Homo sapiens: one gene and its partners. The protein of the gene in region 3 interacts with the protein of the main gene of each other region in a pairwise test. Each region holds a gene or a part of one and is shown on either strand. Other genes may lie near its edges. The genes, in order: NCALD, HPGDS and LIF.

What was found.
Region 1: the proteins of LIF (region 3) and NCALD interact in binary tests that used the Homo sapiens proteins (3 or more experiments, as listed by UniProt).
Region 2: the proteins of LIF (region 3) and HPGDS interact in binary tests that used the Homo sapiens proteins (3 or more experiments, as listed by UniProt).

The regions. Positions count from the first base shown.
Region 1 is NC_000008.11:101,789,643-101,793,392, forward strand, and holds the start of NCALD (neurocalcin-delta), read right to left. Parts: upstream 1,328-3,750; 5' UTR 1,220-1,327; intron 1-1,219. UniProt on the Homo sapiens protein: May be involved in the calcium-dependent regulation of rhodopsin phosphorylation. Binds three calcium ions.
Region 2 is NC_000004.12:94,336,227-94,339,976, forward strand, and holds part of HPGDS (hematopoietic prostaglandin D synthase), read right to left. Parts: intron 1-3,750. UniProt on the Homo sapiens protein: Bifunctional enzyme which catalyzes both the conversion of PGH2 to PGD2, a prostaglandin involved in smooth muscle contraction/relaxation and a potent inhibitor of platelet aggregation, and the conjugation of glutathione with a wide range of aryl halides and organic isothiocyanates.
Region 3 is NC_000022.11:30,245,160-30,248,909, reverse strand, and holds the start of LIF (leukemia inhibitory factor isoform 1 precursor), read left to right. Parts: upstream 1-2,150; 5' UTR 2,151-2,214; coding exon 2,215-2,233; exon of another isoform or gene 2,234-2,405; coding exon of another isoform or gene 2,406-2,742; intron 2,743-3,750. UniProt on the Homo sapiens protein: LIF has the capacity to induce terminal differentiation in leukemic cells.

The DNA of each region.
Region 1 (3,750 bases), on a different chromosome or scaffold from region 3:
TCATATATACAGTTAAACCAGTTTCTTCTACTAATTAAAATACTAGCTGTATTACATGTAGTGCTCTAAAATTTGCCCCTTTTTCTGTTAAACTTGTAAGATTTAGACACCTGGTTATAAATCTAGACTTTGGCTAACTTCAGTACTACAGGTATTCTTTAAATTAGAAGCTCCAAAACAATTCAACCTGTATGTCATGAAAGAAAATCTGAAATTACTAAACTTGGGAAGGAAAGGAACTACAATACAAAGAAAACAATTTGTAGTAAATAGTATTATAGGAATAAAGAGATAAAAATTCTTATTAATCACAGTTATCAAATTATTCATTTAAGATCCAGAGCAAATTGTGAGTGACTACTTCTATCTGTGTTTGAGTTAAAGTAGAACTTGTGTCAATGATACTTTTCATTTTAGGGCTATTGTTTTTTTCTTTAGGTAATTATGACGATTTTTAAAAATAACAACAGCTTACATGACTCCTTAGTAAAGACCACCTCATGCCATTCTCTTCACAGCTGAATTTTCAGGGGAGGATACTGGAAATATGCACTTTGCTCTAACAACCAAAAAGCAATTGCATGCACACATGTAAAAGGTTCCACCCCAACTTCCTTGGCATATTCCCGATTATTTCTCTCTAAACAGGAAACTGTTGACAATTTTTCCTGGTACTTTCAGAATACCAAAGGTTTTACTTACAAGCAAAATCCCAACTTTTGTTTCAGTTATAATGTTATTTCCCGTGGTTCCTATTGTTGCTAAATATGAATGCTGCAAACAAGATAGAAACCAAATTCCAAACTATTTTAGGCTGATTCAGAATTGAGTAGCAATTGTAAAAAGAAAAGTTAGAAACACATTGCAAGGCTATGCTGGAGTTTTTAAACCCAAAACAATACTGAAGGGAGGATTCCTGGAATTCAAGAGAGAATATTTGGCTCAAGCTGCAAAATCCGTATGTCTAAATAATGTTATGTTAGCAAGTGTTGAGCAAGCAAGACGATTATATTTTAACCTACTTCACAAAACATTAATCCAAATTTAACCAAATTCCAGAGAACCTGCCTGAAATTCACAACTAGAAGCTGCTTCACATTTTCCCCTTGGTACAACAATAATTGCTCATGAATACAAACTTGTAGGAGGTAAGAGAGAGGGGAAAACCACAATGAGCTATAAAAACATCTAACTATTGTATATAAAGCAAACTAATTACCTCACTCAGAAGAAGTGCAAGATTTAACAGTCCATGCTCTGCAGCCCCTGGAAACAGCAGTAGCAGCAGCAGCAAGGTCCAGCATCCACCAGATTCTCACAAGCCTTTGACTGTGTGGACTCAGCCACAGACTCTGCCTCTAGCTGACGTCAAAGTCCCTGTCACATGGCCAGATGAAAGCCAAGAGATCATTGGTTGTCGTAGCAACCACAGACCGGCTCTGAAATTATTTCAATAGGTCATCTGTCACTGTGGTGTGTGTGTGTGAGAGAGAGAGTATGTGTGTACGCACACACCATAGAACCATCACGGACAGCTCCTTGACAACCTCAACCCCCGAAGTTGTGACTCCAGAATGCCTACAACTTTCCTCTTTAAGGCTTTGGTGTCTTTTCTCTACAGTTACTTGCAGGAAAATATATGCCACCCTGAAGTTCTCATTTGTTTCACTACCATCAGCATGAAGCATGTCTCTCTCTCTCTCTTTCTCTATAACAAAAGGAAAGAAACTGAAAAATTCTGGAGTAGTTTTCTTAGCCAATTAAACTTATTTGCAAGCAAATATATAAAAACAGAAGCTCAGGGGGAGGGGTTGGAAGAAAATGTATTTTAAAAACTATATCAGAGTCTACATGGATATACTGAGACCATGCTTGTGATGGAAAGAAAAATAAAAAACAGTGGCTTGGGTTCATGACAGTGGCTTATGACTCAGAGACAGGTAAGACAGTCTAATGATCCTGACACCAAGTAGGATGTAGACATCAGATAACATAAATTCAGGATTCCTGTACTGTAAAATGTCTAGGTAAAAATGAGGACCGAAGGAGTTTCAAAACAGTGTTACTTTAAAATAACCATGTGAGTAAGCTGAAAACTGTGCTTTGGGGCCATACGGGTGCCAAATGCTCCCCTCTTGAGTCCTCTCATCCACACCCCTTTGCTGAGACTCAACATTGAGTAAACAGGGCCAGTGTTCCACAAACACAAAGTGTAATGAAAGCCCAGAGCCATAGAATGAAAGGGTTATCTCACATGTTTTCTAACATCAGCTTTATTTCCTTTACGACGACCCTAGCTTACTTTTAACTCTGCACACGTGCCTATTTCCCAGTTAATTCTCTTTCTTAATTAATGGGAAGCCGATTAAACAAAATCAATGAAACTCACAAGAAGGTACTCTGAAAAAGACATTCAGAAAATGTATGCCCAAACAAAGGACAAGGAGTTAAAAGGCAGGGGAGAAGAGACTGCCCTCAAAACCCTAAGGACCTTTATATGCTAGGCTTATAACGACTTCTATTCTGTTTCTTAAAATAAATAAATAAATAAAAAAGAGTAGCTCTGGGGTGCTACAAAATATAAATGGAACCTAAGTCAGCCAGGCAGATTACATTTGTGTCACTGTAAAAGAATGAAATTTCTTTAGTAGAATCAGAAATTGCTTCTTTAATAATAAGACTAATGTTCAAATCACTTGGTCATAGAATCGTCCTACTCCATCCTCCTTTTCATCTTCCTTTATTTCTGTCCCAGCCCCAATTGGGAGAAAAGATAGATTTTTATTTAAAAAGTTATTTTCCTGATGCGATTAGCTGTGGCACTGCAAAACCGAAATCAAACTATAAGGAACTTTCCTCCTTTAATTTCAGATTAATGACAGCTGGGAATTTACCTGTTTGAACAAGGACAATGGAATCCAATGTCTACCTAAAGCCTCACTAGGGGCAGATTTCACCAACAGCCACAATTCATAAACTGACAATTTGTTCCAATTATTGTTCTGCTTTTATGTTCAGAAATGCACATCATACAAATGAGGGAACCGGAAGAGGCAGAGAAACATACCCTTCTAGCTTTCCCTGGACCCACGTTCTCTGAGCTGCTTAATTTACCATCTCTCTGGCTCTAATCCATAGCTGCCTAATTAATTCTTCCTCCTCTTTATGCAGCTTTAGCATTTAAGAGAGAAAAACTGCAGTGCCACATTCTGCTAATAGGTGATGTCTTCTGAAATAAGAAGTTCTCAGTTCTAAAAAAAAAAAAAAATGCCTAAAATTCAGGACTTTAAATGGATTAATTTGAAAATTAGCAAAAAACCAACACTTTTACTTTGACTGGTTTAGCATTTTTAAGACTAAGTATACTTTATACTGCCTTGGGCAGTATTAAAATATTCAGTGAACTATTAAAATATTCAGTGAACTGGCTGGGCATGGTGGCTCACGCCTGTAATACCAGCACTTTGGGAGGCTGAGGCCGGTGGATCACAAGGTCAGGAGATCAAGACCATCCTGGCTAACACGGTGAAACCCCGTCTCTATTAAAAATACAAAAAATTAGCCAGGCATGGTGGCACATGCCTGTATTCCCAGCTACTCAGGAGGCTGAGGCAGGAGGATCGCTTGAACCTGGGAGGTGGAGGTTGCAGTGAGCCAAGATCATGCCACTGCACTCCAGCCTGGGTGACAGAGTGAGACTCCGTCTCAAAAAAAAAAAAAAAAAATGCAGTGAACTGACCTTCAAAATGA
Region 2 (3,750 bases), on a different chromosome or scaffold from region 3:
AAAGAAATCACACCACATAAAAGGTTAAACACGAATCATAAAAATCTAGCTTGCCAAGTCTTGACTTTAAGTTTATATATTCCTGGAGTCTAGTGGGAAGAGGATGACCTGGAAATAACTGGTTGCCTATCTAGAAGCTCCCAGGTTCAGGAAGTGACGGTGATGGTAATTCCTAGCAAAACCATTTTTTCTGGCCCTGGCTTCTGTGTCCAGATGTTGTGGAGTGAAGCTGGTGCTCCTTGCTAAAACGAGAGAGCTACTGCCAATCATTCCTGCCCAGTTTGCATCAGCCAGTCCAGTCCCCACCCAACTGAGATGTAGCATTCACCGCATATATAGATATGTGGGGAAATGTCCTTGAAAGAGACAAGAATTGACTAAATAAATAAGAATTCCATGATTTACAGCCATAAATTTCTTTCAGGGAGAACTATACATATAAAGGAGTTCAAATTTGGGAGACTAAATGAAATGCCCATCAGAACAATGGAACTGTTTTCCAGGTTACTTAGAAATGTTGAGCTTAGAAATAAATAGTGGAAAAGGTCTAAGAGCACGAAAATAGTAAATAAAAAACATAATAATTAAGAGATTATTCTTATCCAGGAAAAGCATGATAGTTATAATTCCTGGACGTATTTGTTTTAAATATCAAAACAATTTTTAAAAGCCTACAGAGTGGAAAAAGTTTGATTATTAGTTGTGGTTTCTATTTGGTGTTTCGTTTTGTTTCGTTTTGTTTCGTTTTGTTTTGTTGCAGCACAGTCTCACTCTGTCCCCCAGTCTGGAGTGCAGTGGCTCAATCTGGGCTCACTGCAACCTCCGCCTCCTGGATTCAAGCAATTCTCCTGCCTCAGCCTCCTGAGTAGCTGGGATTACAGGCATGCACCATCATGCCTGGCTAATTTTTCTATTTCTAGTAGAGATGGGGTTTCACTTATGTTGGCCAGACTGGTCTCAGATTGGTCTCCCAACCTCAGGTAATCCACCCCCCTTGGCCTCCCAAAGTGCTGGGATTACAGGCGTGAGCCACTGTGCCCAGCCTGCAGCTTCTATTTGAAAAGCATTCTATATAAAACTTTTTATTGGTTTTGTTGGCATAGTCAATGTTTCCACAGCATGAAGAAATTATATTTTCTCCCTTTAATATTAAAAGTTATTAGCATTACGTGGGGCACCATGGCTCACGCCTGTAATCCTAGCACTTTGGGAGGCCAATGCAGGCAGATCACAAGGTCAGGAGTTTGAGACCAGCTTGGCCAACATGGTGAAACCCCGTCTCTACCAAAAATACAAAAATTAGCTGGGGGTGGTGGCGGGCGCCTGTAATCCCAGCTACTCAGGAGGCTGAGGCAGAAAAATCACTGAAACCCAGGAGGCAGAGGTTGCAGTGAGCCAAGATCCTGCCATTGCACTCCAGCCTGGGGGACAGGGCAAGACTCCATCTCGAAAAAAGAAAAAAAAGTTAACAGCATTAAAAGTTAAACATACAACCTTTTCTCATTCAGTCAATTACCACATAGATACCAGTGTCCACCTGTTGAATTCTGCATGAAAACAAAGTGATTGTTTTTTATTATTGTTAATTTTCAAAATCATGCTATTTTATATTGTATTTCACTCAAGTAAAGAAGACATTTAAAAATTCTCAGCATAGGTTGGTAGCTATCTATATTTCTCTGCAAAAATATCTTGAAGTCTAAGATTTGGCAGAGGCCCAATAGCAGCTAACAAATGCTTATCTTTCCTTTTAAAATATTCTTTCAACAGTTGTAACTCATTAATGAAGCTGTACTTTTTACATGACATTTCTGTAGTTATTTGCATAATTATATTTTCTGTTTGTCTCAGGAATACCAGATGTTATATCAGAACATCCATCTGTATAATAAACTACATTAAAAGAGAAAAATCAGGCCGGGTGCAGTGGCTCACGTCTGTAATCCCGGCACTTTGGGAGGCCGAGGCGGGCAGATCACTTGAGGTCAGGAGTTTGAGACCAGCCTGGCCAACATGGTGAAACCCCGTCTCTACAAAAAAATATACAAATTAGCTGGATGTGGTGGTGTGAGCCTGTAATTCCAGCTACTCAGGTGGCTAAGGCACGAGAATTGCTTGAACCTGGGAGGCAGAGGTTGCAGTGAGCCAAGACCGCGACACTTCACTCCAGCCTGGGCGACAGTGAGACACTCTCTCTCAAAAATAAGAAACAGAATTATCATGAAACATACTATCATCTCAATAGATACTAAATGCTTTTAAAAAGCATTTATAACATTATCACTCATTTGTGATCAAAATTCTTAGCAAAATGAAAAAACAAAATAAAATACCTCTTATCAAACTAGCAATAGAAGAATACTTCCTTAACCATATAAAGAGTCTCTACTAAAAACTTATAGCAAATATAATACATAATGGTGAATCAATAAAAGCATTTTCTTTAATGTCAGAAGTAACAAGAATCCCACTATAACATCTACTATTCAGCATAATGCTGGACAGCCTAGCTAATTCAATAATGTAAGACAACAATAAATAACATTTGTTAAGTAGTAGGAAGGGAGCGACACAGCATCCATTTGCTGTGTCCAAAATGATTGTCTATATTTAAACTTCGAGAGATTCTACAGATAAACTGGATCCTAGATTTCAAATGGAAATGCTAAGGACCAAAATAGCCAAGACAAAGAAAAAAAGAGAACAGGAGAGGAGGACCTGATGTACCAGATAGCAAGACTTAGATAAAAAGCCTTGTAATGCGGTATTTGCTCAGAGGTGCATTGTCTTAAAACAGAACCTCATATATAGGACAGACATGACATAGAGTGAGGACTAAATGGTTCTGAGACTGAAACTAGACTAAAATGGTTCTGAGACAATAGAGGGAAAATAAGCATAATTAGACCCCAACTTTCTATCAAACACAGAAATAACATCTAGGTTATCTTGGTATGATTTGACTAGCATAGCAAAACTGCAGTATCATTCTGGTCCCTTATTTCCTGTTAGCTTCATTTCTGAACCCTTCCACTGTCGTTGTGTTAAGAATCTCATGTAGAGAAAACTGCATGTTTCCTGAAATGATACAGAAGCCTGAAGTTTAAAAGCTGATTGTGTTTGAAGATATTTACATCTAAAGATCTTTGCATCTAAAATTAACCACTGGCTTCCTTACACCCCAAAGTATATCGTGTAAAGTTACTAATTCAGCAGATAGATAAAAAGCTCATTTAGAATTCTGTTTGAAAAATAACCTATACGGTTTATCAAAGAACACATAAACGACTAATAAATACCCTGGATAAAAACTTAGACATATAAACTCATATGAACATAGCTATCCACTGCAGAAGATTTAACTTTTAATATTAATATATGCATTAGGAAATAAGCTCTTTTATATGGGAAATAACAGTGTTTTTAAAGTACTATCTTGGGTACTTCCTTTCTTTCTCTTTCTTTCTTGTAGCTTTTTTTTACTTTATAGAATGCTTGTTATGGTTTGGCTATATCCCCACCAGAATCTCATCTTGAATTGTAGCTCCCATAATTCCCACTTGTCATGGGAGGGACCCGGTGGGAGATAATTGAATCATGGGGGCGGTTTCCCCCATACTGACTTCATGGTAGTAAATAAGTCTCACGAGATCTGATCATTTTATAAGGGATTTCCCCTTTAACTTGGCTCTGGTTCTGTCTTGCCTGCTGCCATGTAAGACATCCCTTCCTCTTCCGCTATGATGGTGA
Region 3 (3,750 bases):
CCTGTTTCCTGTGGGGTGGGGCTGAGATTAAACAGCGATTGGGGGTGGATTATAGGGCTGATGTGGGGTCTGGCTTGCCAGAAGGCATGCAAGGGCCTGGGGGTCCGCTTGGAAGGATGCAGGGGAGACTGGGCAGAATGGTAGATGTAGGGGCAGCTGCAGAACTCTTGAGCCTAATGAGAGACTCAGGCCGGGCGACGGGGGTTTGATGGGTGGAGGCCACAGTGAGCCCCTGGTCACATGGATTTGGGGTCCATGTCAGGAGAGCCAGGCTGAGTCAGGTGGCAGGGGTCTGGGTGATGTGGGATGGGACTGGGGACTGGTCCAGAGCTCACGTGCTCTGAGTGGTCAGGTCCTTGTGCAGGAGATGCTGGGGGAGGTGTAAGAAGAAGGGTTGAGCTGGGGTGTCCTGGGATGTGGGGTTACCTGAGCCAGGCCAGGGCAGGTGAGTCTCCTAGTAGTGTACGCTGACCCCAGAGCAAGTGTATAGGAGCAGTAAGTGCCAAGTGGGGCCCTCCATGGTCCCTCAAAGAAGAGACAAGGTGTGGGGTGAGAGGCAGGAAGGAGGAAGGAGAGCCAGTTCGGGAAGTGCCAGCTGGGATGGGCAGTTTTATCACCTCACATCCGAGGCCCTGCTGGGAGAGAATGGGGGGCAAGAGCGTAGATAAAGCAGGGTGTGTGTGTGGTGGGGAACGGCAGCAGGCACCAGGGCTCGTCCTGGCACGATGAAGGAGGAACCCGTGGCTGGGCAGGTCTGGGATGTGGCAAGAGGCAGGAACTGGGGGCATGGAGGATGGGCGAGGGGGCGGTGGGGGCCCGGGCGAGGCTGCAAGAGCTCCCTGGCCTTGGAAAACCAACTCACACACCTTGATCTCAGGTCAGGGTCAGGCGGAAGGGCTGGGAAGGGGCCACAGGGGACTAAATCATCTCCTGGTACTGGGGGTCCCCTGGCAGCTTTAGGGACGGCATGGCCCCAGACGCGTGGCCATGCTGTCTGGCCGGCATTCCCGCATCTCATAGGGTGTATTTATTTTCACTTTTCTGTTGCATTTCTTGGAGGTGTCCCTGTGCTCATTTTGCCCGGCTCCCCACTGCTCCTTTCTGCCCTTCCTCATTCACAAATCGCCTGGCCTCAGAAGACGCCAGAACATGTGACACTGCCTTAGAGCCTCTAGAAGCACTTTTTGGGGACCTCCATCATTCTCTGAGGCTGGGCTCAAAGGGGCTTCCAAGGCAGGTCTGGAAGGGACCAGCCACTTCTCAGTTTCCCCAACCATCAATCAGCACCCGGAGGAGGAAACTGGGGTACGATTTCGCCAAGCCTCTCTCAGTCCTGCTTCAGAATGGAAATGCTGGACCGCCTTCCCAGAAGCACCTTCCCAGAGTGTCCCGACAGAACTGAGTCAGTCACCCCTACCCCCATGTCTTCCTAGCCCCTTCCCCAGCCTCACAGGTACAGTGGTCAGCAGGGCGAGTGCACTGGTGGTGTCTGGAGGCCTGACCCTCTGGGGCCCTGGGCAACGTGTTCCCCTCGGAGCCCCTTGGGGCCCAGTGGCAATGTGCAGATTGGAGGAGGCTACCTCTGGGGTGGCTTCCAGCGCCCATGTTCAGTTCCACTTTATGACCGTCTAAAGTCCACGCCGGCCCCGGCCCCTCCTCCTGGAGCCTCCTTCTCAGCCAAGCCCTAGCCCTCCTCCTCCCACTGCCCCCCTAAAGCCCCCCAACCAGGGGGCACAGGGGCCAGTCTCCATCTGCTAGTCCAGACTCGCTACCTCCCCAAACCCAGGTGAGTCAGGGCCGTCTGGGGCGCCCACTGCTGGGACCCCTGCTGACTCGGCCAGGGGCCCCCTCCTGGCGATGCCCATCTTCAGACAACTCCCGGGACAAGCCAGGCAGGAAAACCACAGGGCGTTTTGTCGAAGGCTTCATTATAATTTTATCAATCAAATTCTTAGAAGAGGGAAAAAGTCTGTTCTCCCCACCCTCCCCCCTCACTCGTCCCCCCCCTTCACTCTCACTTTCTTCCATTCATAATTTCCTATGATGCACCTCAAACAACTTCCTGGACTGGGGATCCCGGCTAAATATAGCTGTTTCTGTCTTACAACACAGGCTCCAGTATATAAATCAGGCAAATTCCCCATTTGAGCATGAACCTCTGAAAACTGCCGGCATCTGAGGTTTCCTCCAAGGCCCTCTGAAGTGCAGCCCATAATGAAGGTCTTGGCGGCAGGTAAATACACCCGCCCCGCGCCGGCTTCGCGTCCCCGCTGCGGGGCGCGGCGGCAACTTGGGGCGCTTGGCAGCGCGAGCCGGACGCCCACCCGCCGCAGACACACGAACACTTGGGGCGCCCGCGCAGCCACCGGAGGCGCTGGGTGGCGGCCCGGAGCGAGCGCGGGCACATGGTCCCAAGCACCGCACGCCCCGCGGCAGGTTGGCGGCGAGGGAGGGGGCGCCGAGCCTTCCTCCTCCTCCTCTTCTTCCCCCTCTCCTTCTCCTCCTCCTCCTCCTCGCTCCGGACACTCGCTGGCTGCTCTTCCCTCTGCGCTTTCTCCCAGATTCACTCTCCCTCTCTCTTTTTCTTTTCTTTCTTTCTTTCCGCTTTCTCCTTTCCAACCGCGGTCCCGGGCTGCTCCCAGGGAGGGGCGCGGGCGGCGAGCAGCTTGCAAACTCCGGCCTGGGACGGGAGCAGGTGCCGCCTCCATCTGCTGGTGTCTGGAAGCGTGTGGTCTGCGCTAGGTGAGATATAGGGGTGTGGCCCCCCTCCCGCAGCCACCCCGGGGCCTCAGCACTGCCTTGGGATGCTGGGACGAACAGGGGACCCAGGAGAAGTGAACTTGAGGAGGCCCCTGTCCCCGCTGTTCCAGCATGGGGGATCCGGGGGAGGTCTCCAGCCTCACTCGCCCGCTGACCCCGGCCCCCACCATCTTCAGGTGCCCTTCTGCAGAGCCCTGGAAAAGCGTCTAAGGGGGCCTGGGGGGAGTCGGGAGAACAGGCCCCCCTGGGGGAGGGGCAAACCAGGACATGTCGGGACAGCTCCCAGCTCTCCTGTCACCTTTCACTTTCCTTCCTCCCCGCCCACCCGACTGCCTATGACCTTTTGCCTTTTCTCTCTCCTGGTGCACCATTTCCTCTCCCTCCCTGAGCCGGTGTGTGTGTGTTAGGAGGGAGGGGAACCCCTGGGACAAGGGACAGCGGATGAGTCGGGAGAAGGCATGGAGTCAGGGGCTGTCCGGAGCTGGGGGAACAGAGAGTTTTGAATGATGATTTGGGGATGGAGAGTGGGGACAGCCAGGCAGAAATGGGGTGAGCTTGAGTGAGATAGGGGACACTAGGGAAGGAAGAGATAGAGGATGATGGGGGCGGGGGCAGAATTGGGGGCAATTGGCCCAGGGAGCCAGAATCAAGTGGCAGGTTTGGGAGGGAGATGAGGGTCAACCGAGGACTCCTCCCCACTCCCCCATGCCCCGTGGCCCCCATGGGTGCCTGGCTTCGGAGATTTGGGCTGCAATGGGCCAGTGAGTGGGAAGCGCTGCTGAGGAACCTGGGCCACCACGGGAGGTGGGAAGAGAGGGGTCTCCTTTCTCCTGGTGCCTGCTGGGCCTGGGGCCTGGTGCCTTCCAGCCAGAGGGCCAGGGGGCCTTAGGACCTTTGCCTTCCTGAGGGAAAGGGTGGGATGGCTGGGAGTCTCTCCTGGACCCTGCACCCTTTGGGTGGAAATGGCTTGTGTCTTGCCCTCATCTTTAC